Linked DNA regions of Homo sapiens. The protein of the gene in region 1 interacts with the protein of each later gene in a pairwise test. Each region holds a gene or a part of one and is shown in the gene's direction. Other genes may lie near its edges.

Region 1 (3,652 bases):
TCAGCCACTTGGGAAGCTGAGACAAGAGAATTGCTTGAACCTGGGAGGCGGAGGTTGCAGTGAGCCAAGATCGTGCCACTGCCCTCCAGCCTGGACCACAGTGCGAGATTCTGCTCAAAAAAAGAAATAAATTGTTTCCCATACTGCCACCTGATAAGCTTAACCCTCAACTGGCTGGATGTTCTATAAGTGATTATTTAATTGTAATGAGCCTAATAATAAGTGCGGTATGTTTGGACAGATTCATTGAATGAAAAAGTGGAATTAGCAGGTAGGAGGTTCCTGAAGTTCCATGCTGTTTACTACGTAGCTTTGCAGACTTAACATGTATAAAATCAGAGACATTTCATTAAGTCAGATTTTGAGATCAACACAATATATTTCTTTTTCCAAAACAAAAATGTATTCTTTTTTTTTTTTTTTTTTGAGACGGAGTCTTGCTCTGTCGCCCAGGCTGGAGTGCAATGGCATGATCTCGGCTCACTGCAACCTCCGCCTCCTGGGCTCAAGCAATTATCCTGCCTCAGTCTCCCTAGTAGCTGGGATTACAGGTGCCCGCCACCACGTCCAGCTAATTTTTGTATTTTTAGTGGAGATGGGGTTTCACCATGTTAGTCAGGCTGGTCTTGAACCAGACCTGACCTCAGGTGATCCACCCTTCTTGGCCTACTGAAGTGCTGGGATTACAGGTATGAGCCACTGTGCCCGGCCCAAAAATGCATTCTTTTTCCAATTATAAAATAATAACTACATGTTTATTACTTTAAAAAACAAACGATATAAGAATGTCTCAAATAGAAGATGAAAGTATGATCCTATCCTCCAGATGAAACCATTGTTAACTCTTTCTTGTATATCTTCCCAGACATCCATCCGTCTGTCCATATATTTATCATACGAATTGTTTCTAACCTTCTTTTTCCACTTAGTAATGTGTCGTAAGTATCTTTCCCATATCATTACTTACATCTATATAATAGTATAATAATTTATACTGAGTACATAGCATTTAATTTTATCTGTATATTGATCAGTCTCATTGATAGTGGTTTAGATTTTTTCCAGTTTTTTGTTATTATGACTAAAACTTTGTAAGTATTCTAGTACATATGTGTTTGTATACTGGTCCAGTGCTTGCTTTTGGATAAATTGTTAGAAGTAGAATTATTGAAACAGTATTCCATGAATATTAAAGAAAATGTTTCCAGTGAAAATCTATAAGTTAGTAATTGGCTATAGTATATGTTATAGTTGATTTTGATTTATTCACTGCTTGTTTTTTTTCATCAGTCACATTTGCTGTAGGCTATTGTTTAGCTTTAGACTTTCCAACTGGTACACATTGGATTACTAGATGAGTGAACAACATGGACACATGTATGCTTTGGAAATGTATGGTTTTATGTTTGAAATTTAGTTTGGTTAGTTATTATCCAGTACATACAATAACTGCTGAAAGAAAAGTTTGATATAGGGAGAAAGTCCAGATAGTGCTTTGTATTTCTGTGTAGTTATATTTCCAACTCTAGTGGGCAGTATGTATTTGTTAAATAACTAAAATATGCTTCATTGGAAGTATAATTCATTGTATTGACAGAATTGTTTCATCTGCTAATTTACATTATTATGTAATGTAAATATTTCATAATATTCTGGATATTATGAAAATATCCAGAATATTTTCTGGATACTAAACTTGATTAGTATCTATAGAATTCTGTTCATTGCTTATTCATGCAACAGAATTTTGCTTTGTGCCAAATTATTTAAAAAGCACCAGGTAAAGTAATGACCATGGAGAAAAAAATTGACAGTATGATATAGTGTAAAAAACATGGGTTTTAGAGACAGATTCTGGCTCTTAAATTAACTGAAATTTATTAATGATGTGTCGGTATAGGTTTGAGTGCAAATGTTCTCCTCTTGTAGAGGATGTTGATAGTAGGGTGTCTGTGTGTATGTCAGGGCAGGAGGCCTGGGACATATGGGAAATCTCTACCTTCTGTTCAATTTTGCTGTGAACCTAAAACTTCCCTAAAATAGTCTATCAGAAAAAGTTAACTGCTACTTTGGGCAGTGCATTTAATCTTCCTTAACCTTAATTTTCTTATCTGTACAATGGGATAGTAAGAAGAGATGACACATGCAAAGGAAATGGCCATTTCTCTCTTTTTTATGATATTTTACTATAGAGAATTTAGGATGTATACATATAGGCAGAACTGTATAATAAACTCTATTGTACCCACCACCCAAACGCAGTCATCAACCCACGTCCAATCGCTTCTCTTCTACTTTTCCCTCTTTTATATTTTTGAAGCATATTCTAGGTATAATATGATTTTATTCATATTTAGTAGTAACTATAAAAGTTATGGACTCATGATATAGTACCATTATCACAGCAAAATAATAATCACTTATAAAAATTTCTAATCATTGTTCAAATTTTTACTTGTCTCACATATTATTTTTTAAACTGTTTGCCTTAAAAAAAAATTTTTTTTTTTTTGAGATACAGTCTCACTCTGTTGCCCAGGCTGGAGTTCAGTGGCATGATCTTGGCTGACTGCAACCTTCACCTCCCAGGTTCAAGCGATTCTCCTGCCTCAGCCTCCTGAGTAGCTGGGATTACAGGCATGCGCCATGACGCCCGGCTAATTTTTGTATTTTTAGTAGAGACGGGGTTTCACCATGTTGGCCAGGCTGGTCTTGAACTCCTGACCTCAGGTGATCCGCCCGCGTCAGCCTCCCAGAGTGCTGGGATTACAGGCATGAGCCACCACGCCCAGCCTAAAAAAAATTTTTGATTCAAAATCCAAATAAGTTCTACACATTGTGATTGATCGATATGTCTTTTAAGTGTCTTAATCGGTAAGTTTTCTCTCCTTGTTTTTCTCCTCTGCAATTTATGGGCTGTTTGTCCTTTTAGAATTTTTCACGATCTGGATTTTGCTGGTTCCATCTTTACAATTTAATTTAACATAATCCTTTGAATTTCCTGTAAACTGCTAGTGGATCCAAGGGCTTGATCAAATTCAGGCCATTCTTTTTGAACTTACTACAGTTGGGTTTTTGTCCCTAGCACTTGACTGGAATTGTTTTTATCAAGGTCAGCAAAGACTTAGCTAAACCCAATAGTTCCCAGATCTTCATTTTATTTCATCCACATCTAATGACATTTTCTTCTTGAAACACTGTTTTTCTCCATTTGGTTTTCAGGGTACCACTCTCTCCAGGTCCTCCTCCAACCTTGTTGGCTGTTACTTTTCCAGTTCCTTTGCTGTTTTCATTTCCCTAATTTCTAAATATTGGGAGTATCCTTGGGGTTAGTATTCTGTATCCATGCCACAGTCTGTCTGATCTCTAATCCAGTGGTTTTAAATAACACTTCTATGCTGAGGACACCCACATTTACACCTCCAGCCTGGACCTCTCCTCTGAACTCCACACTCATCTAACTGCTTACTATTCATCTACTTGTAGACACCTCAAATTTAGCATATCCTTAAAATCCTCTTGATTTCCCCTCCAAACTTGCTACTATCACTGAGTCTTTCCTATCTCAGTAAATGACACTTCTGTTCTTTCAGTTGTACAGACCAAAAAACCTTGAGAATGTTTCTCCTCATACCCCACATCTAGTCCATTT
Region 2 (3,752 bases), on another chromosome or scaffold:
ACGCTATTACACCTGCTGACTATCCAATAGAAAAAAGAAGGAGAAGGAAAATCGGGTTAACTTTCTGGTATTTAGTTTGCAGATATGTCAGCAGGCCACCTTCTCTACTTGGCAGGATCACGATGTATTAAGAATCCTTTTGTCCACCAGGAAAGACAAATTTCCTGTTTGTCTTGCATTTAGATGCAACAACATCATCCTAAAGAGATGCCCCTGATGTGTGAGAGCAGAAAGGGGTGATCCCTTTCTTCCTTATCCTAAGGCTCACGGCCAACACCCCTATAACAAAAGACAGGTTAACAAGAGAAAAGCATGACAAATTTATTTGATCACGTTTTACATGACACAGGAGCCTTCATTCAGAATGAAGACCCACAGATACAGGGAAAACTGGATGGCAGTATAGAACTGTAGTTGGACAAAAAGGGCAGCAGCCCATGTTCGCAGGCTGAGGGGAAAACCCAGCAAGGCCTGTCTGTTCAGATCCGTCTTGGCCCCTCTGTGCAGCACTCCTTCCTCCAGGCACCGGGGACAAGACTCCTCTGGAATGCGGGTCTGGATTTCTTTACGGCCCACTGTTACACAGAAAGGCAGCGGGGAAGTTACAGTGGTATTTCTAGGCTTTCTGGCTGGCTTTGGGGAGAAAAGAGTCTGGTTTCCACGAGCTGCTTTGAGGAAGAAGGATTCTCAGTTCTATGGCTTGCCCCGGGGGAGAATGATGGGTGAGAGAAGAGACAGGAGGGCAGGAGAAGGTCAGAGAGAGAGACTTTGCTTCTGAGGCCTCCACCTTGGGGCATGGATTTCTGAGCCCCAACAGACCTTGACAGAAAAATCTAGGACACAAAGATAGTGGCTTGGACACACCTGCCTGCATTTACACTTGACCTGTCTGCGACGTAAACACTTTCCTCTTTCCCTCCAGATGGGTTAAGGGGAAGGACACTTCAGGGTTGAAACGCAGGAATACCAGATTGGAGCAAACACTTTTTAAAAGCAGAGTTATAAAATCTGGACAACATCAAAACAAGCAGCCCCAGCATGCATCCCGACGGCTCTTGTTGTTGGTTGGAGAATGAGCCCAGCAGTCAGGCTTGCAACCCACTTCGAATCTGGACCAGGGTTCTGACACGGATCCTGGTTCACATCACGCTGGGCCTTGTGGCCAAACACGTGTGTTTTCTCCATAGGGCCTTGAAGAAAAGCTGGCGGTGCGCATGAGATAGGAGTATATTAAGTTCCTGGCTGCTCGGGGCACTACGGGAAGATTACTGGGCTGTGATATGGGCCAGCACTCAGATTCCCTGCGGTGGGACACAGAGGGCGGGTTGTTTGTGCTGCTGGCGTGGAGCACCGACAAGCCTGTGGAGAACCAGTTATAATAAACACGACAGGCATCCTGGGAGTGAGCTCAGGGCATTTGGGAAGTGCAGAAGGACATGCACCCCCGCTGGAGGGGTGCACCTTTGAAGTCAGCTGGACCAAGGAAAGGCCCTGCCCTGAAGGCTGGTCACTTGCAGAGGTAAACTCCCCTCTTTGACTTCTGGCCAGGGTTTGTGCTGAGCTGGCTGCAGCCGCTCTCAGCCTCGCTCCGGGCACGTCGGGCAGCCTCGGGCCCTCCTGCCTGCAGGATCATGCCCACCACCGTGGACGATGTCCTGGAGCATGGAGGGGAGTTTCACTTTTTCCAGAAGCAAATGTTTTTCCTCTTGGCTCTGCTCTCGGCTACCTTCGCGCCCATCTACGTGGGCATCGTCTTCCTGGGCTTCACCCCTGACCACCGCTGCCGGAGCCCCGGAGTGGCCGAGCTGAGTCTGCGCTGCGGCTGGAGTCCTGCAGAGGAACTGAACTACACGGTGCCGGGCCCAGGACCTGCGGGCGAAGCCTCCCCAAGACAGTGTAGGCGCTACGAGGTGGACTGGAACCAGAGCACCTTCGACTGCGTGGACCCCCTGGCCAGCCTGGACACCAACAGGAGCCGCCTGCCACTGGGCCCCTGCCGGGACGGCTGGGTGTACGAGACGCCTGGCTCGTCCATCGTCACCGAGGTAAGAGAGTGAGCTCAGGGCTCAGATGGAGAAGCAAATGGTGGAGATTTTCTCAAGGAAGCAAGCAGGGAAGGCCCGGCTCTTATAAACCCTGCCTGGACATCTCTTTGGCCTGCATGTATCTTACAAAATCCTAGTTTCCAAATGAGAACATGCAGCTTCTAATTTGTCTGGAGAATAACTGGATTAGTTAAAACGTCCTCAGATGCTGACAATAATGATTCTAGTTTGTGCATGTCCCAGCAATAAGGAACAGGCCAAAGCATATTAGGACTCCTGGAAATGTTGCCAAGATAGGGATATTGTGGATCCTCCTCTTTTTCTGGAAGCCTTACCTCCCCCTCTATTCCTCCATCCCGCAGATGCCCACACACACCTGAAAGCCCGTGGAACTCAACTGAACTGTGCCTGACTGTGTGATAGGATGTGCTTTTCTCTCGATACCTATTTTTTCTCTTTAATTTCCTCAAAGTGTTCATATAAAATCATTTGGGGCTGGAGATCATGCTATGGCACTATTATTTTGTTAAAAACTACAGATGACATCAAAAGCTATTTGTGAAGCCTGATTCCAATAAATATAATAGAAAAAAAGACAAAAAATGGAGCTTGCTTTTATTGAAAGCAAAGCAAAATAGGGGAATTAAGTTACCTGAAAATACTGAGAGAGCCAGTTGCCTAGTTTAATTTAAAATGACTGCTTGGACAATGGGAAGATATTCTGTGTGAACAGATGGGTAGGTAGAGTCTAATTTGAAGGGTCTAAAGTGGTCAGATATTTACAGGAAATGTGGCAGCTCATGGGCTTCACACCACAAACTCTCCGAGGCTCTCTCACATGGCCAATCTCATTGCTTCCTACAGAGATGAGGAAACTGAGGCCCCAAGCAGAGAAGGTTTTTCCCCAGGCCACACAGTGAATAACTTAGCAGGGTTAGCCCTAAAAGATGGGTCTCCTGACCTGGTCCAGCACCTGCTCCACCCGACCACCTCCTCTTATTCCAAATAAGAGCAAATGCAGCAGCCTTCAGCAGTCACTCCTAATCCCCTTTTATTAAACAGACAGCAGGGAGATGCTAAATGGCCCAACCTCCTGGTGCCTGCATTGTATCACGTCCACACACCTATCTGCATGTGCATTGAAATTAGAAAGGAAAAAATAAATTTGTCTATAAGTAATTACCCAGTTTCAGCTGATTTAGCCAATGCTGTAGTTTTAGCTTCATGACAAATTGCCAGATGGAAGGGCAAGCCTTTTGGTTATGTAAAGAAAACTGAGGCTGGGCACAGTGGCTCACGCCTATAATGCCAGCATTTTGGGAGGCTGAGGTGTGAGGATCACATGAGCCCAGGAGGTCGAGGCTGCAGTGAGCCATGATCACCACTGTACTCCAGCCTGGGTGACAGAGCAAGACCCTGTCTCACAAAAAAAAAAAAAAAAGAGAGAGAGAGAGAAGAAGAAGAAAATTGGCATGATCAAGAAACAATGGCTTATTGCCACTTAACTATACAGTTCAATTCAAGGAATATTTAATGAGTACCCTAGCTGAGTTATGTCCAACAGGATTCTAACAGGATTTCATTTCCTTTCTCTCCCAACTTGGAACACTTCTCCCCTGCTGGCAGTTTAACCTGGTATGTGCCAACTCCTGGATGTTGGACCTATTCCAGTCATCAGTGAATGTAGGATTCTTTATTGGCTCTATG

The links. The genes of interacting proteins can lie anywhere in the genome.
Region 2: the proteins of AGO3 (region 1) and SLC22A2 interact in a two-hybrid assay, tested with the Homo sapiens proteins (one large-scale study listed by BioGRID and IntAct).

What each region holds. Positions count from the first base shown.
Region 1 is NC_000001.11:35,937,573-35,941,224, forward strand, and holds part of AGO3 (protein argonaute-3), read left to right. Parts: intron 1-3,652.
Region 2 is NC_000006.12:160,256,637-160,260,388, reverse strand, and holds the start of SLC22A2 (solute carrier family 22 member 2), read left to right. Parts: upstream 1-1,567; 5' UTR 1,568-1,631; coding exon 1,632-2,045; intron 2,046-3,671; coding exon 3,672-3,752. UniProt on the Homo sapiens protein: Electrogenic voltage-dependent transporter that mediates the transport of a variety of organic cations such as endogenous bioactive amines, cationic drugs and xenobiotics. Functions as a Na(+)-independent, bidirectional uniporter.